Homo sapiens: one gene and its partners. The protein of the gene in region 4 interacts with the protein of the main gene of each other region in a pairwise test. Each region holds a gene or a part of one and is shown on either strand. Other genes may lie near its edges.

The links.
Region 1: the proteins of ZBTB8A (region 4) and ZNF35 interact in binary tests that used the Homo sapiens proteins (3 or more experiments, as listed by UniProt).
Region 2: the proteins of ZBTB8A (region 4) and DDX6 interact in binary tests that used the Homo sapiens proteins (3 or more experiments, as listed by UniProt).
Region 3: the proteins of ZBTB8A (region 4) and KIF5B interact in binary tests that used the Homo sapiens proteins (3 or more experiments, as listed by UniProt).
Region 5: the proteins of ZBTB8A (region 4) and ZBTB48 interact in binary tests that used the Homo sapiens proteins (3 or more experiments, as listed by UniProt).
Region 6: the proteins of ZBTB8A (region 4) and ZBTB24 interact in binary tests that used the Homo sapiens proteins (3 or more experiments, as listed by UniProt).
Region 7: the proteins of ZBTB8A (region 4) and AP1M1 interact in binary tests that used the Homo sapiens proteins (3 or more experiments, as listed by UniProt).

What each region holds. Positions count from the first base shown.
Region 1 is NC_000003.12:44,658,732-44,661,291, reverse strand, and holds the end of ZNF35 (zinc finger protein 35), read right to left. Parts: coding exon 1,345-2,560; 3' UTR 501-1,344; downstream 1-500. UniProt on the Homo sapiens protein: May be involved in transcriptional regulation. Involved in cell differentiation and/or proliferation.
Region 2 is NC_000011.10:118,756,665-118,760,164, reverse strand, and holds part of DDX6 (probable ATP-dependent RNA helicase DDX6), read left to right. Parts: intron 1-120; coding exon 121-243; intron 244-1,262; coding exon 1,263-1,391; intron 1,392-2,877; coding exon 2,878-2,994; intron 2,995-3,500.
Region 3 is NC_000010.11:32,018,426-32,021,925, forward strand, and holds part of KIF5B (kinesin-1 heavy chain), read right to left. Parts: intron 2,863-3,500; coding exon 2,801-2,862; intron 2,707-2,800; coding exon 2,597-2,706; intron 1,975-2,596; exon of another isoform or gene 1,535-1,974; coding exon 1,433-1,534; exon of another isoform or gene 138-1,432; coding exon 77-137; exon of another isoform or gene 1-76. UniProt on the Homo sapiens protein: Microtubule-dependent motor required for normal distribution of mitochondria and lysosomes. Can induce formation of neurite-like membrane protrusions in non-neuronal cells in a ZFYVE27-dependent manner.
Region 4 is NC_000001.11:32,594,927-32,598,426, reverse strand, and holds part of ZBTB8A (zinc finger and BTB domain-containing protein 8A), read right to left. Parts: intron 3,374-3,500; coding exon 3,204-3,373; intron 1-3,203. UniProt on the Homo sapiens protein: May be involved in transcriptional regulation.
Region 5 is NC_000001.11:6,582,994-6,586,386, reverse strand, and holds part of ZBTB48 (zinc finger and BTB domain-containing protein 48), read right to left. Parts: intron 469-3,393; coding exon 357-468; intron 1-356. UniProt on the Homo sapiens protein: Plays a critical role in transcriptional regulation and chromatin remodeling. Acts as a regulator of telomere length. Directly binds the telomeric double-stranded 5'-TTAGGG-3' repeat.
Region 6 is NC_000006.12:109,473,220-109,476,719, forward strand, and holds part of ZBTB24 (zinc finger and BTB domain-containing protein 24), read right to left. Parts: intron 3,040-3,500; coding exon 2,956-3,039; intron 2,264-2,955; coding exon 2,180-2,263; intron 1-2,179. UniProt on the Homo sapiens protein: May be involved in BMP2-induced transcription.
Region 7 is NC_000019.10:16,242,911-16,246,406, forward strand, and holds the end of AP1M1 (AP-1 complex subunit mu-1), read left to right. Parts: 3' UTR 1-2,996; downstream 2,997-3,496. UniProt on the Homo sapiens protein: Subunit of clathrin-associated adaptor protein complex 1 that plays a role in protein sorting in the trans-Golgi network (TGN) and endosomes.

The DNA of each region.
Region 1 (2,560 bases), on a different chromosome or scaffold from region 4:
CTTGGCCTTGCACTAAATGACCATTCTCAGGTAAATGGGCAACCACCTGTTTCAGTGTTGTAAGGACTGAGGTAGGTGATCTATGTGAAAGCGTGAGATACGTGCCAGGTATCATGATCAATACATAAGGGTACACAACAAAGAATAAAAGTTCTATATAAATACAAGGCAATATTATTACATAACTCTACCTATTGCATAGTTTTATAAATCATTTTTCCAGGAGTAAAGGCTGAATGGTAACAAAGATATCTTACCTTGGCCAGTTTCTTCATCCTTCTAAAAGTTTTTCATATTCCAATACCTCTGAATTTCTCAAAAAATCAAATTAAGACCTTAGGAATCTTATTTCCACCTCCCCTCTCCCATCACTTTCCCTCTTTGGTCTTCTCAGAATGAGAAGAGCTCCACTATTTCTTCTAAACACCATCCAGAATGTGAGAATGAAACCCAAACTGAGACCCCTGGCTGGACTTGAGCAGAATGACAGCAGAGACAACTGGGGCATGCCTCTAGGCAAGCTTTATTCTTTGACTCCTTCATCCAGGAAGGGGCTGTTAGTTGCATCTCACCCAAATGGAATGCGATGGGAATTGGGGGCTTGAGTTGTTTGGAGAAGGAGCTGTTGATCTTGGCAAATGAATATAGCTGGTGTGTGGTGTCCATCAATCCTTGAGTGCTTGGCCATGGAGACTAGGGAATGGTCAGAACAGACCCAGAGGTCCCCAGATCTTTACAATACCAAGGTTCAGGAGGTATAGACAGTAAGGAAAAAGTCCATTTCCTATTTCTGTCCATTTTCAGTAAAGTTTTTGTTTTGACTGGCTTTTAAAAAATTACCTAGGAAATGGAAAGCTTATAAACATTCGTAAGTGAATTGTTGAACTGCTACCCCAAGTGGTTTCCTTACCCAGTCACCACTTAACCAGAAATATTAGAATACACGGTTCAACCAGAATTCAACCAGGCAGATAACCTGCCTGTTGCTCAAGCAATCATCAGAGTTTTAAAAAACAAAATTAAGCAAAAAAGACCTTTCCCCAAATAGCATCATTACCACTTAGCTTTGTACGACCCATTCCTAGGAAAGCCACATTCCACTTCAGAGAACATGACCGCTTAAGGTACAGTTAAAACAAAGTCCTTGCCTTTAGGTGCTTACTTTTTGTTTTAAATTAGCCTCTGAAATGCTTTTCTTGTGTCTTCTGCTGCATTCCTGAAAACTATAACTTTTAAGGACACAGCCCTCACTTTTATAGAGGAGGAAGAAAACAGCAAAGAGGTGTCTCATTAGGGAGGCAGAAGGTTATGACCAATGCTGGAGGTCTTCCTCTTCCTTACTTGTTATTCAACAAGATGGGTTCTATGGTGTCGCATGAGGTGTGAGTTGGAAATGAAAGCTGCACCACACTTCTCACATTCATAGGGCTTCTCCCCAGTGTGGGTTCTCTGGTGCACGGTGAGGCTCGACCTCTGTCTGAAGGCCTTCCCACACTCATTACATGTGTAAGGTTTTTCTCCATTATGAATTCTCTGATGAATAAGTAGGTATGAGCTACATGTGAAGGCCTTCCCACATTCATTACACACGTAAGGAAGATCTCCACTGTGAATTCTCTGGTGGACAATAAGGCAAGAGAGCTGACTGAAGGCTTTCCCACATTCGCTGCAGTCGTAAGGTTTCTCTGCAGTGTGAATTCTCTGGTGCACAATAAGGTGTGAAAAACAACTAAAGGCTTTCCCACACTCTTTACACTCATATGGCTTCTCACCAGTATGGCTTCGCTGATGTACAATAAGATTTGCACTCTGGGTAAAGGCTTTGCCACAGTCGTTACAGGCAAAGGGCTTCTCCCCAGTGTGGATCCTCTGGTGGACAATGAGGTTTGAGCTCCTAGTAAATGTTTTCCCACATTCATTACATTCATAGCATTTTTCCGTAATGTGGACTTTCTGGTGCCGAGCAAGTTGTGAGCTGTAACTAAAGGCTTTCTCACATTCATTGCACTTAAAAGTTTTTTCTAAGGAGTGGATTTTTTGATGTACAGTCAGATTTGAACTCTGAGTGAAGGCTTTCCCACATTTTGAGCAAACATAAGGTTTCTGTCCAGTGTGGATTCTCTGATGCACAACGAGGTTTGCACTCTGAATGAAGGCCTTCCCACACTCATGACATTCAAAGGGTTTCTCTCCAGTGTGGATTCGCTGATGCACAACGAGGTTTGCACTCTGACTAAATCCTTTCCCACACACGCTACACGTAAAAGGCTTTTGTCCAAGCTGGGTTTTTGGATTTTTAACAGCGCCAGAATTAAGGCTATATTTTCCTCCAGATTTCTTACATTTCTGGTTTTCCTCTTCTTTGAAGCTTTCAGGTAAGTGACAGTCATTCACTATCACTTGTCTGAAATCTTTCTTTTCTCTCTTTATTCTCTGCCTCTTTAACATGTTTCCCTTTTCACAAGCTTCTCCTAACTCAGGTCCTTGAGGATCAGCTTTCTGGATTCTTTCTGATATGATGAGGGGTTTTTCAGCTTCCTCACATATCTCAGTTTTTGGA
Region 2 (3,500 bases), on a different chromosome or scaffold from region 4:
CCACCAGGAACATTTCATGGATGCTTTTGTTGGATGATGCCTTATTCTTTGACCATGTATTAACCAAGACCTTAGACATTATTTTATTGTTTTTAAAATTGTCTTTTCTTTCTACTGCAGGCAGATAAGTTGCTGTCACAGGATTTTGTGCAGATAATGGAGGATATTATTCTCACGCTACCTAAAAACAGGCAGATTTTACTATATTCCGCTACTTTCCCTCTTAGTGTACAGAAGTTCATGGTGAGTATAAATCTGTACTTGGAATCAGTGCCATCCTGTGACCTTTGAGTATGCTTTTATTTGTAATTACATCTTCATATCTGTGAATATACTTTATGCTAATTATTTCAAGCCTTTGGCTCTTTCTTCAGTTGATCAATTAAAGATTTGTTTTACGTAAATTAACTGACTTTTTAAGAAGGTTGTAATAGTAACTTAATTAAATTCCTCATCTTTCACTTAGTTTTTGGTGTCATGATGACATAGCCATTGGTGCTAGCTGAATTGATTCCGGTATTATTCTATATACAAAACAGAGCTTGAGTATCCTAAACTGAAATCCAAAATACTGCAGAATTTGAAACCTTTTGAGCCACGAACATGATGCTAAAAGGAAATGTTCTTTGGATTTTGAATTTTCAAATTAAGGATGCTCAGTCACTAAGTGTAATGCACATATTCCAAAATTAGAAAAAATTTAAAACCTGAAACACTTCTGTTCCTAAGCATTTTGGGTAAGGAATACTCAACCTGTAGTAACTTAGCTGCATTTTTGAGATCTTATATCTTAATTTATTTCTATCGGGTCGGGCATGGTGGCTCATGCCTGTAATCCCAGCACTTTGGGGGGCCGAGGCGGGCAGATCACAAGGTCAGGAGTTCGAGACCAGCCTGGGCAACATGGTGAAACCCCGTCTCTACTAAAAATACAAAAATTAGTCTGTTATGGCAGTGCATGCCTGCATTCCCAGCTACTCGGGAGGCCGAGGCAGGAGAATCACTTGAACCCGGGAGGTGGAGGTTGCAGGGAGCAGAGATCGTGCCACTACACTCCAGCCTGGGTGACAGAGCAAGATTTTGTCTCAGGGTGGCAGGGGGGAAATTCTGTAATGACAGATCATATATTTTGTTTTGAAGAGAGTTGCGTCCCTTACAGCAAGAGTTTATCGGACAGAAACGTATAGGGTATATTTTGAATTTGAGATGAACTCTGCTTTCATTTAAGACGACGACTCATCTTTTTCCCGCTCCCCCCCCAGAATTCCCATTTGCAGAAACCCTATGAGATTAACCTGATGGAGGAACTAACTCTGAAGGGAGTAACCCAGTACTACGCATATGTAACTGAGCGCCAAAAAGTACACTGCCTCAACACACTTTTCTCCAGGGTAAGAAGTAGGCTTCTGCTGTTGAATATTATCTCTCGAGTCCCAGTAAAACAGATGATTTCATCAATTTTCCCACCGTCTTCACTGTATAAAAGTTCGTAGTGTTTCTGGCTTGGCACGGTGGCTCATGCCTCCCAGCACTTTGGAGGCTGAGGCAGGCAGATCACGAGGTCAGGAGTTTGAGACCAGCCTGGCCAACATGGTGAAACCCCATCTCTACTACAAAATACAAAAAAATTGGGCATGGTGGCGTGTGCCCATAATCCCAGCTACTTGGGAGGCCGAGGCAGGAGAATTGCTTGAACCCAGGAGGCGGAGGCTGCAGTGAGCTGAGATTGCACCATTGCACTCCAGCTCTGGGCGACAGAGCAAGACTCCGTCTTGGGAAGAAAAAAAAAAAGATTAAAAAATAATTCATAGTGTTTCCTAAAAGGCAGGTTTAGTTGTTGACCTAAAGTTGATACTAAATGATTAACCAAGTCACAGATACACTTTTGAATAGTTTCTGAAATACTTTGACCTTAACTAGGGTTAATCCTCATTATTCACATATTCTGTATTTGTGAATTTGCTTAGTCACTAGAATTTATTTGTAACTCCGGAATTAATACTCAAGGTAGTTCAGCAGTCATTTGTGGACGTGTACAGTGTGGCAAAGAGTTTAAGTCACCTGACATGCACATTCCCAGCTGAGGTCGAAGAAAGCAATCTCTGTCCTCTTGTTTAGCTCTCATACTGTGAACAAGGGTCCTTTTCACAGTCTGCCATGTTTTTCAAGTTTTTGTTGCTGATTTCACAGTTTTAATTGGCCCCTACACATGGTGCTGAAGTGCTGCCCAATGCTGGTGGCATTGGTTGTGAGTATATTAAAGAAGGTATTCTTGGCTGGGCACAGTAGCTCATACCTGTAATCCCAGCACTTTGGGAAGCCGAAGTGGGCAGATCACCTGAGGTCAAGAGTTCAAGACCAGCCTGACCAACAGGCTGAAACCCTGTCTCTACTAAAAATACAAAAGTTAGCCAGGCATTGTGGTGGGTGCCTGTAATCCCAGCTACTCAAGAGGCTGAGGCTGGAGAATTGTTTGAACCCAGGAGGCAGCTGTTGCAGTGAGCTGAGATTGCACCATTGCACTCCAGCCTGGACAACAAGAGTGAAACTCCATTTCACAAAAAAAAAATAAAATAAAATATTTTTAAATGGAAACACATAAAACATAACTACTTTGAATCAGATAATCAATTGTATTACTCTTGTTGACAGTTATGTGGCCCTTAAGAAATATACTCTAATACGGTAAATCTTAGATATTATTATCTTCCATCTATTATTTACAATTTTTACAATTTACCATCTCTCTCATATCATGAGATTCTAAGTTTTAGACCATGTTAATGTTTCTTTTTTGCTGGTTCGTGTTTTCAAGATTTGGCAAACCAAATGAAGGTTTTTTTTATTTTTCTCATACTTATTTTTTTCTGTGCTCAGCTTCAGATAAACCAGTCGATCATTTTCTGTAACTCCTCTCAGCGAGTTGAATTGCTAGCCAAGAAGATTTCTCAACTGGGTTATTCTTGCTTCTATATTCATGCTAAAATGAGGCAGGTGAGTATAAAACTAGAACTTGCACAAATTTAATAAGAAATCTCTTTCTTTATTTTGTTTTAATGTTCTTTTAAATGTCCTGAGTTTAAGAATAAACTGTTCCTTAGTAGCCAAAGGACCTTTCATTTTGACCTCCCTCAGGTTCAATTTTCTAGCAATAAAATAGGGATAATAGTACATATTCATAACTTACAAGGTTGTTAGGAAAATTAAGATAAATGTTTAAATGAGTACTTTGGAAGCTGTCAGGCATGATACAAATGTAAAATTTTATTCTTCCCTTCCTTTCCATGTTTAATTCTCTGTTTAATACAGTAAATAGCCACATGTGGCAATTTAAATCAGTTAAAATTAAAATAAAAAGTCAGTTTCTCAATCACAGCCACATTTCAAGTGCTCAGTTAGGCACCTGTTGCTACTGGATAGTGTATTGGAATTGGAAGTACAGACACAAATATTTCCTTTATTATAGAAGTTTTACTGGACAGCACTGCTCTGGATTTTTA
Region 3 (3,500 bases), on a different chromosome or scaffold from region 4:
TTAAATTTAGAATAATCATGGTAGAAAAAACCCACAAAATATTTCCCAATCCTGTTTATTTTCATGTTTTTCTTACCACTGTCTCTTCCAAACCCTTCAAGTCTTGTCTTGCTTGTTCTCGTCTATCTTGCATAACCCTAACAGTAGAAGAACAAACATATATTTTCAAATTTTATTCTGTATATTGTACTTAGCATGAGAGTTGAATAAAATATTTTGTGTCTGAAAGGATAAATTCTTAAATTTAAATAAATACAAGATGCCTATTTTAAACAATTTACCTGTGCTGTCTTTCAAAAAAAAAATTTTTTTTTTTTTGACACAGAGTTTCTGTCCCAAACACTGCTCACTGCAACCTCAACCTCCTGGGCTCAAGTGATCCTCCTCACCTCGTCTCCCAAATAGCTGGGACTACAGGCATGTACAATCAGCCCTGTCTAAAAAAATTTTTGTAGAGACGGGGTCTCACTATATTGCCTAGGCTGATTCTCAAACACTGGGCTCAACTGATTCTCCTGCCCTGGCCTCCCAAAGTGCTGAGATTATGGGTGTGAGCCACTGCAGCTTTGCAATTTCAAAAAATTTTCATATGCCTTCTAAACAACAGTCTATTGTTATACATTCCATATATAGCAATGGAAGAGATGAAATAAAATGTGGCAGAATTCAAAGAATAAGGAATAGTTCTATAATTTATATTTTAAAATATGCCACATGTATTATACTGCTATTTATCCAAAATGATACTGATTAATTATAGATTATAAACTGTCAAAGACTAAAATATTTTACATTACAAGTATTCTAAACAAAATTACAGCTGCAAGTTAGCAGAATCTTCATATAATCCACTCTGAACTGGTCCTGATGTTCTAACTATCCTAACAATATCAGTTGATTTGCAAATTGTCTCACAAACTCAAGGTATGTGAAAAATTATAATCATGCACTTTCTACCTGCTAAGATTCTAGAAAACTGAGTTTTGAGAAAATGAGAAAAGGTAAACCATGAAAACCTCTGTTCAAAATGGCAAGGCTAAACACCACAATGCTCTTTTATGCAAGAGAAAATTTAACAAAAACTCAGTTTTTGTGTTAGATCTTAAAATCTTCGAAGTTACTTAATATATTGTTTTAGGTTCATTTTTATGCTGGATCCTGAAGTAATATGGAGATAAAGAAACAGCAAGCAGATTAATAAAGAGAAACCTTAATCTTAACCACAATGAAATATAAGACCTTGCTTTCACTCAAATGCAAGTATATATTCCAAGTATTTAGATATAAATCAAACCAACTCAGTGGATTTAAGAAAAAATCCTTTAGCCCATACAAAGTAAAATATGTATCCACTGGCTATATCCAAAGGTAATGCCTATAATCCTCTAATTTAGCTTTTATTTTTAAACTTTAATTAAAAACAATTACTCACGTAAGTTCATGTAGTTTTCTGCTCTTTTCCTGATCTGTGGCTTTCAACTTCTCATGTTCTACTCTTAGACGTTCCTGCTCTAACATCATTTTCTGGTTTTGGCTGACGAAAGAAAAAAATAATTAACACAGTATCAATATCACAGTTTTCTCAATGTCATCATTAAAATTTCCAAACTTTTAAATTCTATAATCTCATCAAGGACTTTTCTGTTATCCTATACCCTATGGAGGAAAAGAGGAAAGGGACCTGGCTACTTGTGGACATACAAAATTTTTCGTATTTTGGTTTGAAATCATGATTCTGTTCTCCTCTGTCTTTCATCTTCCTGAATCCTTATGCCTACTTCCATCAGGTATTCATAGTAAGACCTACGCCCCAAACCTCATCATTATTTTGTTATGTTATTCTCTTCTTGGTTCCTACTCAAATTGTTGCAAACTCTGACTTCCATAAACTCTATGTATGTGCACATGGTTATGGAGGCAGGGAAATTGCTTCTAGATAAACTAAGATGACAACTTAAAAAAAAAAAAACCTTTGAAAATCCATAGAATTTCCAGAAAAGTTTTTCCCAGTTAAGAATTTTGAGTCAGGGTCTCGCTCTGTCACCCAGGCTGTAGTACAATCATAGCTCACTTCAGCCTCAGATTCCAATACTCAAGCAATCCTCGTGCCACAGCCTCCTGGGTCACTGGGACTACAGGCATGTGCCACCAAGCTCAGCTAATTTAAAAAATTATTTTTTGTAGAGATGGAGTCTCACTATGTTGCCCAGCTGGTCTTGAACTCCTGACTTCTAGTGATCCTCCCACCCCAGCCTCCCAAAGCACTGGGGTCACAGGCCATCAGCCACTGCACCCAGCCAAGAATTTTTTTAAAAAAGGAAACTAAATAAAGGATTTGGAGAAGACTGTGGTATGCAATAATAGACTTAGGTTGGGGATTTTTTTCTTTTACTGAATAATTTAGATCAAAAGACCTAAAAAAAAGCCTCAAAAATTTCACCTGGAATTTAGAAGTTTTACTCATAAATGAGAAAATTCTTTATTTTCCAAGATAAAAATGTAATTTTGATGAAAACTGCAGGTTTCTAATAAGAATATATACCATGACCATCAGTAACCGATTCTTTCCTCCTAACTAGAGAAGTATAATACTTACTCTTGAAGATCAGTAATAAGTTTTGCTTTTGCTTCTACTTCATCTCTCAAACTACTGATCTGTTTTTGATGAGTTTCTCTATGGCTCTGGATCTGCTGTTCAACAGCTTGCTAAAATTTTGGGGGGGAAAAGGATGTTAAAGTCAGACTAATCAAAATTAATACTGATTAATTAAAGCTGTTAGAAATGTGACATCAAACTTGCCTTAACTTCATTTGCAGTCTGAACCTTATTTAAGTGCTCCTTTTCCATTTCATGGACTTTCTCTGTTTGAATAGAGAGAAAATAGAAGAGTGAAATAAGCCTTTAAGGTTCCTCATATAAACCAAGGAGCAAATGGATTTTACAATAAGCATTTTCCTTAGCAATATTCAACTTCAAATTACCCAAATGTCACCTGCTCTCCAAGTTCAATGACATGTAGACTAGTATACAAGTTACATCCATTGTGTTGGTATTATGTATTCCTTTATGGTTTGTTTGGTTTTTTTTTTTTTGGCCTAATCCAGAACAGATTAGTTAAGGGAATGGTAAAGAAATGAGATAACTCCTAAGTCCCCTATGTTAAGACACACACACACACACACCCCGCTTCGTAACTGTGGGAAATCCCCAGATTGGCTATTTCCATATTCAAACAAAATCTTAAAAATATATATATATATGTTTTGACAGGCACAGTGGCTCATGCCTGTAATCCCAGCACTTTGGGAGGCCAAGGCAGGCAGATCACGAGGTCAGGAGATCAAGACCATCCTGCGTAACACGGTGAAGCCCTGTCTCTACAAAAAAGGTAAAAAATTAGCCAGGCGTGGGGGCATGTGCCTGTGGTCCTAGCTACTAGGGAGGCTGCAGCAGGAGAATCACTGGAACCCAGGAGGTGGAGGTTGCAGTGAGTCAAGAT
Region 4 (3,500 bases):
CATCTTTACTAAAAAAAAATACAAAACTTAGCTGGGCATGGTGGCACACGCCTGTAATCCCAGCTACACGGGAGGCTGAGGCAGGAGAATCACTTGAGCCCGGGAGGCGGAGGTTGCAGTGAGCTGAGATTGTGCCACTGCACTCCAGCTTAGATGACACAGTGAGACTTCATCTCAAAAAAAAAAAAAAAAAAAAAAAAAAATCCAAGAAAGCTAATACAGTCTGGTAAAATATGTAGGAAAATGTATGGAATTACCACTAGTACAGTTATTATCCTGTGTGTAACTGTTGACATATTAATCAGTAAACATTAAAAGTACATGATTTGAATGAATTCTGATTTCTCCTGAGATAGTAATATTATGCGTATTAGGCTGGGCGTAGTAGCTCACATCTGTAATCCCAGCACTTTGGGAAGTGGAGGTGGGTGGATCACTTGAGGCCAGGAGTTCAAGACCAGCCTGGCCAACATGGTGAAACCCCATCTCTACTAAAAATACAAAAAAAAAAAAAAAAATTAGCCGGATATGTGCTTGTAATCCCAGCTACTCGGGAGGCCAAGGCAGGAGAATCACTTGAACCCAGCAGGTGGAGGTTGTGGTAAGCTGAGATCGTGCCACTGCACTCCAGCCTGGATGACAGAACGAGACTCTGTCTCAAAAAACAAACAAACAAACAAACAAAACTATGGGTATCAAATGTGGTATTGTTTTTGTTACAAGCTCTGATACAGATTCATGTCCATCCCTCCAAAATATGTATCTTCTAACTCTATCCACTGAAATAGTGTAAAAGAAATGACACCTCCGTAACAATGACTGCCCAGACTTTGGGCTCTAATTTCACTTTCCACTAAAGGAAATGGATTGAGAAATGGCTGATTCCAGCTCTGTGGTAGGGAAAGTACAAAGTGAGTCTAGGCCTCTTTTGGAGCCAGAGAACAAGGACACTTTCAAAATTTAATGGAGTTGTGACAAAAGGAGACAAGAGCCAGCATCAAGGTAGAGACTGTTCACTGGATAAAACTAAAAATTTGAGTGTCAAAAGGAATAATAATTGTGGATCCAAACATAATAAACCAATACAATTCCTCAAATTCCTGAGACCATATGATATCTAAAAATATAAGACCAGCAGACGTGGTGGCTCACGCCTGTAATCCCAGTACTTTGGGAGGCCGAGGTGGATGGATCACTTGAGGTCAGGAATTCAAGACCAGCCTGGCCAACATGGTGAAACCCCATCTCTACTAAAAATACAAAAACTAGGTGGGCACCTGTAGTCCCAGCTACTCGGGAGGCTGAGACAGGAGAATTGTTTGAACCTGGGAGGCAGAGGTTGCAGTGGGGCAAGATCACGCCATTACACTCCAGCCTGGGCAACAGAGCGAGACTCTGTCTCAAAAAAAAAAAGAAAAAAGAAAGCAGGTGTAGTGGAGACCTCCTTTGGTTGGACAGCCGCAACTAGACTGAAATCCTACCAGACAAGGATTCAGTAATCACTGGTAGATGCTGAGTATCTACAGTGGTGATTCTGACCTAGACACTTAAAGCATTTATACAGTTTATATTATCTTTGGCTCTGAACAGACCAGTATATAAAAACATATTAGACTAAGTGAATTAAAATGGAAATATAAAACTATTTACCATCAAAAGAATATACCCCACTTCAAGGTCTTGAAGGAGATTAAAAATCAATATACATAATTATGCTTTACGTGCAAAGTAAAAACACTAAGTTGGAAGAATTTTAAATATGGTAGAGTTGTGTGAAAACATTTCCCTCAGCAAATGAGATGATCCTAAAGCCCATAAATGTATTTTTTTTGTTTGTTTTTTGTTTTAGACAGTGTCTCACTCTGTCATTCAGGCTGGAGTGCAGTGGCGCGATCTCAGCTCACTGTAACCTCCACTTCCTGGGTTTGGGCAATTCTCGTGCCTCAGCCTCCTGAGTAGCTGGGATTATAGGTGTGCGCTACCATGCCAGCTAATTTTTGTATTTTTGGTGGATGGGGTTTCACCATGTTAGCCAGGCTGGTCTTTTTTTTTTTTTTGAGATGGAGTCTCGCTCAGTCGCCCAGGCTGGAGTGCAGTGATGCAATCTCGGCTCACTGCAAGCTCCGCCTCCCAGGTTCACACCATTCTCCTGCCTCAGCCTCCTGAGTAGCTGGGATTGCAGGCGCCCGCCACCACGCCTGGCTAATTTTTTTGTATTTTTAGTAGAGACGGGGTTTCACCATGTTAGCCAGGATGGTCTCGATCTCCTGACCTCATGATCCGCCTGCCTCGGCCTCCCAAAGTGCTGGGATTACAGGCGTGAGCCACCGCGCCCAGCCAACCAGGCTGGTCTTGAACTGAACTGGCCTCAAGCAATCTGCCCGCCTTGGCCTCCCGAAGTGCTGGGATTACGTGTGTGAGCCACTGTGCCTGGCCAACTGTACATATTTCTTAAGAAGTAAAATGATGGGCCAGGTACTGTGGCTCACGCCTGTAACCCCAGCATTTTGGGAGGCTGAGGCAGGTGGATCACTTGACCCCAGGAGTTCAAGACCAGCCTGGGCAACATGATGAAACCCCATCTCTACAAAAAATATAAAAATACAAAAATTAGCCTGGCATGTTGGTGCAGGCCTGTAGTCCCAGCTACTCAGGAGGCTGAGGCGGGAGGATAATTTGAGCCTGAGAAGTCGCGGCTGCAGTGAGCTGAGATGGCACCACTGCACTCCAGCTTGGGCGATAGAGAGAGACCCTGTCTCAAAAAAAAAAACAAAAGCTGCAGTGAGCTGAGATGGCACCACTGCACTCCAGCTTGGGCGATAGAGAGAGACCCTGTCTCAAAAAAAAAAAACAAAACAAGGCCGGGCGTGGTGGCTCATGCCTGTAATCCCAGCACTTTTGGGAGGCTGAGGCAGGTGAATCACCTGAGGTTGGGTGTTTGAGACCAGCCAGGCCAATGTGGTGAAACCCCATCTCTACTAAAAATACAAAAATTAGCCAGGCGTGGTGGCACACACCTGTATCCCAACTACTTGGGAGGCTGAGGCAGGAGAATTGCTTGAACCCGGGAGGCAGAGGTTGCAGCGAGCTGAGATTACACCATTGTACTCCAGCCTGGCAACAAGAGTGAAACTCCATCTCAAAAAAACAAAAACAAAAACCAAAAAAGAATTAGTAAAACGATGAAAAAAAATCATACATACTGTTCGAAAATGGCTACTTAGATGGTCTAGCCTGCTAAATCTTTTTCCACAAGCTTGACATGGATAGGGCCTTTCTCCTGTATGACAACGAAGGTGGCGCTTTAGGTCTGCCTTCCGCTTCACCACATGTGTGCAGTACGGGCACTTGAATCGCATCCGAGGCAGATCATCTGTCAAGAGACGCTTTGATTAAATCACTGGAAAGTTCATAACAATTCTAATAACAGAAAGAATCCAATCCAAGCCCAATGGAAACAAGGAAAGAAAAAAATAAACTTAAAAAAAAAGAAATAAAAA
Region 5 (3,393 bases), about 26 Mb from region 4:
CCCTGACACAGAAGCCAGCAGTGGGGTTGCTGGGGGTGGCCAGGGGGCCTTTCCCAGCTGCCATCCCCTGTAGCGGCTCCCCTTCTCCAAAGCCAAGGTGGAGGTGGGCCAGGGGCCTAGGAAAGCCAACCCCAAATGCCTCCCACAGAGTCCCTCCTATGCCTGTCCCTTCCGCCCTCAGGACCTGTGTCCCCACCTGTACCAGGGCATGGACCTCATGACATCCAAGGACCCCACAGCTTTCCTGAGTTTACAGTACCCCTCTCAGACAGTCTCCTGGGGCCCTTCCCGGATGGCACGAAGACAGAGAGGCCAGTGTGCCCTGCCCACAAGTACCTGGGCCAGCTCCCAAGTACCTGTTCCGAGCGGTTCATGCAATTCCGGGCTTCATGCTCCAGGAGGTTCTCCTTCCGAAAGTAACACTTCCCACATTTGGGACACTCAAAGGGTTTCTCCCCAGTATGTTTCCTGCCAGGAGAAGCCACAGGGGTGGGGGGGCTGAGAGGGTTTCCCATCTCTCCCTCACCCAGGGCCCCCTCTGGGTCCCTTCTAAGGGGAACAAGTGTTCTCAGGTGACACCGGCTGGTTAAGGTGCAGGGACAAGCCCAGAAGCCTCCCCCAGCATGGAGACTCTGCAAGGGAGAGTGCAGTGGCAAGAAGCTCACACAGGTCCTAAGAGGCTGCCATGGATCTGGCCAGCACAGAGGCCGACAGGGAGGCCCAGCTGACCGCATTCTGTCTGAAGGCAGAAACAGATCTTGGGTCCTGACTATTGGAGAAGCAACTCAGTCTTCCCAGAGCTTCAAACCCATGGCCAGATCCTCACCTGACTCCACTGGCCCACCAAGGCTGGCAACAGCTTCTCCCAGGTAGCCAGGGGAGCTGCCCATCTGGTCTCCCCGCTCCGTGACTGCCTCCCCCACAGGTTTCAGTTCAGGAGCCAGAAGGACCTTTAAGTCAGACCTCAGTACCTCTTGGCTCACGTATCCCCAGTGCTTCCCCATTCAGAGAAAGGGCCCGGGAGGCCTATCAAGGCGCAGGCAGCCCTCCCCTTGCCTGCTTCTCTCCCAGGGTGTCGTCTGGCCACCTGGATCAGGCATGTGCCTCCTTGCTGCCTGTCACGCCCCCAGGATCCTCCTACCCCAGCGCCCTGGCTCTTCTCTCTGCCCAGATGCTCCCCAGTCACCCACTTGGTCAACTTCCTCACCTCCTTTGAGTCTTTGCTTAAATCTCACCTTCTCAGTAAGACTCTAGAGACCCTGGCTACTTAAAATCGCAATCGAACCCCACTCACAACTCCCCAACCCCTTGGCCCGCCTCTGCTTTTTCTTCTTCGGCAGCACTTCCTCACCGTCTACTGCAGGCAGATGGACTTATCTGTTATCTGCATTGCCTGGCAAGCAGGTCGGCTGCACAAGCACCTTTGTTTAGTTCCCTTAAATGCATCCCAAGCACCCACAAAGCCTTGCTGGCCACCTGGTAGACTGCTTAATCAATGAACTAAACGAACTCGACCTCAGAGCCCCTGTGCAGCCTGCGACAGCTCCTCCCACCTTCCAGAGGCCAAGCAGCTCTCTCATCCTCTTCCTCTACAGCAACTATCTTCATCCCCCATCAAAATGACTTCATGAAGCCATCCCCTCCCAGTTCTCAGGGCCAGTCCAGCAAGCTGAAGCCCAAGGAAGGGATGGAAACTGCCCCAGAGTCTTACCCCAGCAGAGTACTTGAAAGCAAGCATCCAGCAGTACACAGGCTGCCCCAGGACCCCCGACACTGGGGTTATCCCAGCATTCCACTGGCAGCAGCTGCCCTGAACACGGTGCACAGGGACAGCGAACGGGTTTCCCCCTGGCTCCCATTCTAGGTGATTACTAGTGTGCCGCCCAACCTGGCATGGCAAGAAAACACACCATGATAGACTAGTGATGTCTTGGCTGGGAGTGGCAGGACTGGAAGGCATGCCACTGGGCCGCCATCCCCACAGGCCTTGCAGGGACTCCAAAGCAGTGCCGCCCAAGGGGATTCTCCACGATGATGGAAATGTGCTATGTCAGCACTGCCCGATTCAGCCACCAGGAGACACGTGGTTCCTCACCACTTCAGATTTGGCTAACGTATCTGAGGAACTGAATTTTTATTTAATTTTAAATTTTAAGTTAAAATAGTCCCTGGGGGCTGGGCACGGTGGCTCTCGCCTGTAATCCCAGCACTTTGGGAAGCTAAGGCAGGTGGATCGCAAGGTCAGGAGTTTGAGATCAGCCTGGCCAATATGGTGAAACCCATCACTACTAAAAAGTAAAAAAATGGCTGGGCACGGTGGCTCACGCCTGTAATCCCAGCACTTTGGGAGGCTGAGGCAGGTGGATCACAAGGTCAGGAGTTCGAAACCAGCCTGACCAACATGCTGAAACCCTGTCTCTACTAAACACACACAAAAAAATTAGCCAGGTGTGGTGGCGCGTGCCTGTAATCCCAGCTACTCAGGAGGCTGAGGCAGGAGAATCGCTTGAACCTGGGAGGCAGAGGTTGTAGTGAGCTTAGACGGAGCCACCACACTCCAGCCTGGGCGACAGAGGGGAGACTCCATCTCAAAAAAAAAAAAAAAAAAAAGTAAAACAATTAGCTGGGCGTAGTGGTGCGCACCTGTAGTCCCAGCTACTGAGGAGGCTGAGGCAGGAGAATCGCTTAAACCTGGGAGACAGAAGTTGCAGTGAGCCAAGATCATGCCACTGCACTCCAACCTGGGCGACACAGTGAGACTGTCTCAAAAAAAAAAAAAAAAATAACAGGCTGGGCGCAGTGGCTCATGCCTGTAGTCCCAGCACTTTGGGAGGCCGAGGCAGGTGGATCACAAGGTCAGGAGTTCAAGACCAGCCTGGCCAAGATAGTGAAGCCCCATCTCTACTAAAAATACAAATATTAGCCAGGCGTGGTGGCAGGCACCTGTAATCCCAGCTACTCGGGAGGCTGAGACAGGAGAATCGCTTGAACCCAGGAGGCGGAGGTTGCAGTGAGCCGATCTCATGCCACTGCACTCCAGCCTGGCAACAGAGTGAGACTCCGTCTCAAAAAAATAAAATAAAATGAAAAACAACATAGGCTGAGCATGGTGGCTCACACCTGTAATCCCAGCACTTTGGGAGGCCAAGGCGGGTGGATCACAAGGTCAGGAGATTGAGACCATCATGGCCATCATGGTGAAACCCCGTCTCTACTAAAATACAAAAAATTAGCCGGGTGTGGTGGCATGTGCCTGTAATCCCAGCTATTTGGGAGGCTGAAGCAGAGGAATCACTTGAACCCAGGAGGCAGAGGTTGCACTGAGCTGAGATCACGCTACTGCACTCTAGCCTGGTGACAGAGCAAGACTCCAACTCAAAAACAAAAACAAAC
Region 6 (3,500 bases), on a different chromosome or scaffold from region 4:
CTTTTTTTTAAAGCTTCCCAGGTGGTAAAAAGCATGCAGCTAAATTGAGAACATCCACCTACACTATGACTTCCTACTCCCAGCTCTCTGGCTGCCTTGATGCTCCTCCCAGCACGTCTCCAGCTTGTCAAAAACATTTATTCCTGCCTGAGGGCCCTGTGCCCAGGGCTCCCCCTGCCTAGAATGCTCTCTCCTGGACATCTTCAATGGCCGGCTGGCTCACTCCCCCACTGCATTCTCATCTCCATCCAAGATGCCACCTCATCTGTGAGACCTTCCCAAACCAGTCCATGCATAAAAGAGCAACTCTCTTTCCGGCATCCCGCCCCCTTACCTTGCATTTTATTCTTCAACGCACTCACAACACCAAATGTGTTATATACTTGTCTGTACTCTGTCTTCCCTATTGAATGTTGGCCCCTTAAGGCAGGGGCCTGTCCATCTCATTCACTGCTGTATCCTCAAAGCCTAAAACAATGTCTGGTTCCCAGTAAGTGCTCAGTACATGTGTTAAAATCCATATCCTATGAGATGTTTACTGAATTTAAGAAGAAAAACTTGTATTTAAAAAACAACATCCAGGCCAGGCACAGTGGCTCACGCCTGTAATCCCAGCGCTTTGGGAGGCTGGGAGGGTGGATCACTTGAGCCAGGAGTTTGAGCGAGACCAGCCTGGCTAACATGCCAAAACCCTGTCTCTACAAAAAAAAAACACAAAAATTAGCCAGGCGTGGTGGTGCGCACCTGTAGTTCCAGCTACTCGGGAGGATGAAGCAGGAGAATTGCTTGAACCCAGCAGGCAGAGGTTACAGTGAGCCAAGATAGCACCACTGCACAACAGCCTGGGCGACAGAGACAGTGACTCCAAAAAAAAAAAAAAAAAAAGTCCAAAGCACCATAAATCAATTTGCTATTTAGATAATTCCAGTAGACAACAGAATTATTAAATAACCTGTAATGGCAAGTTTTTCTTAGAAAACTGAATAGGCTTATTTTTAACATACATTCTTTGACAAAAGGTATAAAAGATCCAATTTTCCGATCTTACATAAAAAAACTGACCTGCCCTAATCAATGCTGCCTCCTCGTCATCTCTGAAACTGATTTTTCTGGAGGTGGTGCTGCTTAAGTTTAAGTGTTGGTTCTAGGGGAGAAAGTGGAAACATTCTCAGTGTCTATGCTACATTTGTGTCTGTTACATTTGGCTGTCTTTTCTAAAAAAATAATCTTGGGCCAGGCACAGTGGCTCACGCCTGTAATCCCAGCACTTTGGGAGGCCAAGGTGGGCAGATCACAAGGTCAAGAGATCGAGACCATCCTGGCCAACATGGTAAAACCCCATCTCTACTAAAAATACAAAAAAAATTAGCTGGGCATGGTAGCGCACACCTATAGTCCCAGCTACTAGGGAGGCTGAGGCAGGAGAATCACTTGAACCCGGGAGGCAGAGGTTGCAGTGAGCCAAGATCGTGCCACTGCACTGCAGCCTGGCAACAGAGCGAGACTCCGTCTCAAAAAAAAAAAAAAAAATTTATCTTGCTGGGTATGGTGGCTCATGCCTGTCATCTCAGCATTTTGGGAGGCTCAGACAGGAAGACTGCTTGAGCCCAGGAGTTCAAGACCAGCCTGGGCAACATAGTGGGACCCATCTCTACAAAAATTAAAAAATAAAAAATTAGGTAGTGTGGTGGTTTGCACCTGTGGTCCCAGCTACCCAGGAGGCTGAGGTGGGACGATCACCTCAGCCCAGGAGGTCAAGGCTGTGGTGAGCTGTGATCGTGCCACTACACTCTAGCCTGGATGACAGCACAAGCCCTTATCTTTAAAAAAAAAAAAAAAAAAAAGTCTTGATATCACCTTCAATGCTGAAGTAAATTAAGAGTGAAACATAGAACCAGACTCAGACTCACTATTCTGTGGTATTAAATGAATTGTGACATACGAATAGTCCTCAGTAAGTGATCTCCATTTTGCTCATCTACAAGAGATGTGATTTCCCCAAAGACAGTGCTGACAACATTCTGCCTTCCAACTTTTAACTTATCTTCTTACACAACTCCCATCCAATTTATAATAAACATTTCCAAACACAGGCTTAGCAGGGCACTCAGAGAACTTCATTCTTCACTCTCCTGAAAACATCCCGTGTACTGGGGGGACAGACGAGATGGAGTTTTACCTGTGTGTGTTCGCAGATGTTTCTTTAGCTGAGACACATCCATGAATTTGCGATGGCAGTCTTTGCATTCCGGTAATGAGTGGCCTTGTCGCAACAATAAAAAAAGTGTCAGTGCATACATGCTCTCCCTGCCTTTTCTTCAGTGATTTGTGTTAAAGCACTTCCCTGAAAAATAATCACTTTAAATATAGTACTTTAACCACAAAAATTTTTTCATTAATTTGGTAACTGTTAATATTTTCCTAAGCACCTCAACTCACTGCCTCCTCCAAGAGAGCTAGGATCCTTCCAATTCTAAATGTAGTCTCTCCTTTTTTCCTCAAAGTATTGGTGTGACTGAGGCCACAAATGACCTCAAATGACACTCGTAACCCACATTCATTTCTTATCAGTTGGCAGGAAAGAAAAAGGACAACAGGTAGAACCAGGGGAGAGAAAGCCTGGGCTGACAGCCATGGGATGATGATGTCTCTGCCCAGGCACCACTAACAACCATTCACTGAAGCTCCCCTGTGCAAGTGGCACTTTTGAAAGATGCCAATTCTGTAGGGTTTCTGTGTGTGGCACCAAAACTGTAGTATACAAATAAAACATAATTCACATGGTGGCGGACAATAACATAAAAACATGTAATTTAGACTCTTAAGGCACTTTTCCCTAAATACCCTATGTGAACGATATGTGCTAAGAGCAGAACAATATAAACCTAATGTTTCAGAAACAATTCTTATTTGCATTTCTTCCCCCCCAATCTAAATGTTCTCACTTTATCGTACCTGTATGAACTCGGTAATGGCTCTTTAGCTGTCTGTTCTGGCTGAAATATTTTCCGCATTGATCACAGGTAAAAGACTTCTGTCCTGCCAAAAAAACCAAAACACTAAAACATGTAAAAAATTATAAAGAACTGGAATGCTCACTAATAAGGTAAATACTACAGTGGGTCCAGGTCCCCATTTTCTACAAATGATACAAGCGACTTGTTTACATACCCAGAAGCCTTCAATCTACCACAGAAACATAAATGTGCAAAGGTATGTAAGGCAATCGGGAGTACTGGAGACTGGGGTAGAACTGGAGAATTTAAGTTTCCCCGAAAGGCGTTCAAAGTAAAACAATTCTAAACTTTGGTGGTTTAATAAAACATGCTTGCACACTAAACTCCCAGCAGCCAGTTTATAAGCTCTAGTTTAATGATCCGTGCAGAACTCTAAACTGCACTCAGACAGATGCAAAATCCTGTCTTTCAATGACACCACGTTGGAAATGATACTAGGCTGAGAAAACACCATTTAGGTGTTGGTAATGCCCACCCTGGGGA
Region 7 (3,496 bases), on a different chromosome or scaffold from region 4:
GCTTGGCTAAATTTTTTTATTTTTGTATTTTTTTTATTTTTAGTAGAGACAGGGTTTTGCCATGTTGGCCAGGCTGGTCTTGAACCCTGACCTCAGGTGATCCACCCCCACTGGCCTCCCAAAGTGCTAGTGGCAGGTGTGAGCCACCACACACGGCCAGAATAGACTTTAAAGCAAGAAAGCAAAAGAAAAAATGTATTAGATCCCCGAGAAGTTTCCACACAACTCCAAGAATTATTATTAGAGTTCCCACTCTCTGAGGAATTTTCAAGAGAAATTAGTTAGAATTCAACAAGAAATAAATTACTTTAAAATATTTCCAAATATGAGAGGTTTTTTTTGTTTTTGTTTTTGTTTTTGTTTTTGTTTTTGTTTTGAGAAAGGGTCTCTGTTGCCCAGGCTGGAGTGCAGTCAGTGGCACGATGTCAGCTCACTGCAACCTTGGCCTCCTAGGCTGAAATAGTCCTCCCATCTCAGTCTCACAAGTAGCTGGGATTACAGGTGAGCACCACCAAGCTCAGCTATTTTTTTTTTTTTTTTGTATTTTTAGTAGAGATGGAGTTTTGCCATGTTGCCCAGGCTGGTCTTGCACTTGGGCTCAAGTGATCCACCTGCCTCAGCCTCCACAGTGCTGGAATTACAGGTGTGAGTCACCATGCCCAGCCAATATGAGAGATTTTAAAGCACATTTTTCAATCACCATGTGTCAAAGAAGAAAATATAATGGAAGTTAGAAAATATTAGAGAATGGCCAGGTGCAGTGGCTCATGTCTATAATCCCAGCACTTTAGGAGGCTGAAGCAGGTGAATCACTTGAGCTCAGGAGTTCGAGACCAGCCTGGCCAACATGGCGAAAATCCATCTCTACTAAAAATACAAAAATTAACCAGGTGTAGTGGCACACGCCTGTAAATCCCAGCTACTCAGGAGGCTGAGGCCCAAGAATGGCTTGAACCCTGGAGGCAGAGGTTGCAGTGAGCTGAGATTGTGCCACTGCACTCCAGCCTGGGCAACGAAACGAGAGTCTGTCTCCAAATAAATAATTAGAGAATATTTTTCAATCTGGATGCAGGTGACATGGGTGTGCTCTCGAGAATCCATCAAGCATTGATGATTTGCACACTCTTTTGTGTATATGTTACACTTCAGCAAAAACATTCACAAAGGGGAAAAAGGCAAAAGATACTTAAAGCAGCCAGAGGTAAAGACACATCACCTTCAGACATGACAACCAGACAGACAGACAGCTGGCTTTTCAAAGGAACCCAGAAAACAGTTGGGTGACATTTTCAACATGCTAAAAGAAAACCACTAACCCAAATCAGAGACCCAGCAAAAGTATTTCAAGAATGAGGTTACAGTAAAAACATTTTGCAGACAAATAACGAAAGAGTTTGCCAGCAGCAGGCTAACACTAAAGAAAATTGTAAACAGTGTACTCACATCAGGCACAAGGAAAGTGATCTCAGACGGAAGGGCATGATGCAAGAAGAAATAAAAGCAAAGAAGTAGAAAATACATGAGAAAATCTAGACAAAGATTGCATAAACAGTTTCTGGAGTTTTTTTAAGTGATAGAATTATACAACAGGAAAAAAAGTCTGCAGGGAGTAAACTGAGTTAAAATGTTCCAAGTTAATGACTGTCTGGGAGGAGAATAAATAACATGGATACACTTTGGGAGGCCGAGGCGGGCGGATCACGAGGTCAGGAGATCGAGACCATCCTGGCTAACACGGTGAAACCCCGTCTCTACTAAAAATACAAAAAATTAGCCGGGCGCGGTGGCGGGCGCCTGTAGTCCCAGCTACTCCGGAGGCTGAGGCAGGAGAATGGCGTGAACCCGGGAAGCGGAGCTTGCAGTGAGCCGAGATTGCGCCACTGCAGTCCGCAGTCCGGCCTGGGCGACAGAGCGAGACTCCGTCTCAAAATAAATAAATAAATAAATAAATAACATGGATAAAATTTGTTGTTTGTTGTTGTTGTTGTTGTTGTTGTTGTTGTTGAGACGGAGTTTCGCTCTTGTTGCCCAGGCTGGAGTGCAATGGCGCGGTCTTTGCTCACTGCAACCTCTGCATCCCGGGTTCAAGCTATTCTCCTGCCTCAGCCTCCTGAGTAGCTGGGATTACACGATGCGCCACCAGGCCTGCCTAACTTTGTATTTTTGGTAGAGGCGGGGTTTCTCCATGTTGGTCAGGCTGGTCTCAAACTCCCGACCTCAGGTGATCCGCCCGCCTCGGCCTCCCAAAGTGCTGGGATTACAGGCATGAGCCACTGCGCCCAGCCAAATCTGCATTTTGATAAGTATGCATTTTACTATCTAAGGGAGCTAAAACATTTTTATTATTTTAGCACTGTAACTTTGCTTTTCTTCTTTGTTTTGTTTTTTTGAGACAGAGTCTCACTCTGTCGCCCAGGCTGGAGTGCAGTGGCGTGATCTCAGCTCACTGCAACCTCCACCTCCTGGGTTCAAGCAATTCTCCTGCCTCAGCCTCCTGAGTAGCCAGGATTACAGGTGCACGCCACCACACCCAGCTAATTTATGTAATTTTATAGAGTTGTGGTTTCACCATATTGGCCAAGCTGGTCTAGAACTCCTGGCCTCAAGTGATCCACCTGCCTCGGCCTCCCAAAGTGCGGGGAGACCAGAATTCCACCCAGAATGACCTCTCTGTTCCTAGGAGTGTGACAGCATTTGGGGGGGAAAATAGCGTAGAGTTGGAATTTTTAAAATTCAGTTTGACAAAATGACTTTTAGCTGGAGCATTAAGTCCCTTTACATTTAATGTAATAACTGATATTACATTTAAGTATAAATTTAAATCTACCGTCTTACTTTGTTTTCTATTTTTGTCCTTTCTATGTTCTCTTTTATGTCCTCTCTGGATTTATTACAGATTGTTTGTGGCTTTTAAAAAAAGTCATTGCTTGAATGATGAGAGCTTATATTTAAAAAGGCAGGGGGCTAAAATAAATAAATAATTTAAAAAATAAAAATAAAGTCATTGTTTTCCTTTGAATGTTTGAGAGTTACAATTCTAGGCTGGGCGAGGTGGCTCAAGCCTGTAATCCCAGCGCTTTGGGAGGCCAGCCCAGGTGGATCACCTGAAGTCAGCATCGTGAAACCCCATCTCTACTAAAAATACAAAAATTAGCCGGGCACAGCGGCATGTGCCTGTAATCCCAGCTACTCGGGAGGCTGAGGCAGGAGAATCACTCGAACCTGGGAGGCGGAGGTTTCAGTGAACCAAGATCTCACCATTTCACTCTAGCCTGGGCAACAAGAGCAAAACTCCATCTCAAAAAGAAAGAAATATATATGAGTAGATATTAAATGTGTACACATATATACATATATAAAGGCTAAAATAATGATCTAAGCCTCCATCTCAAGAAGTTAGAAAAAGAACAACAAAATAAATGTAAGAGCACAGAAAGAAGGAAATAATAGGGAGTAGATACAAAGAAAATGGAAAAGAAACACTCAATAAAGAAAA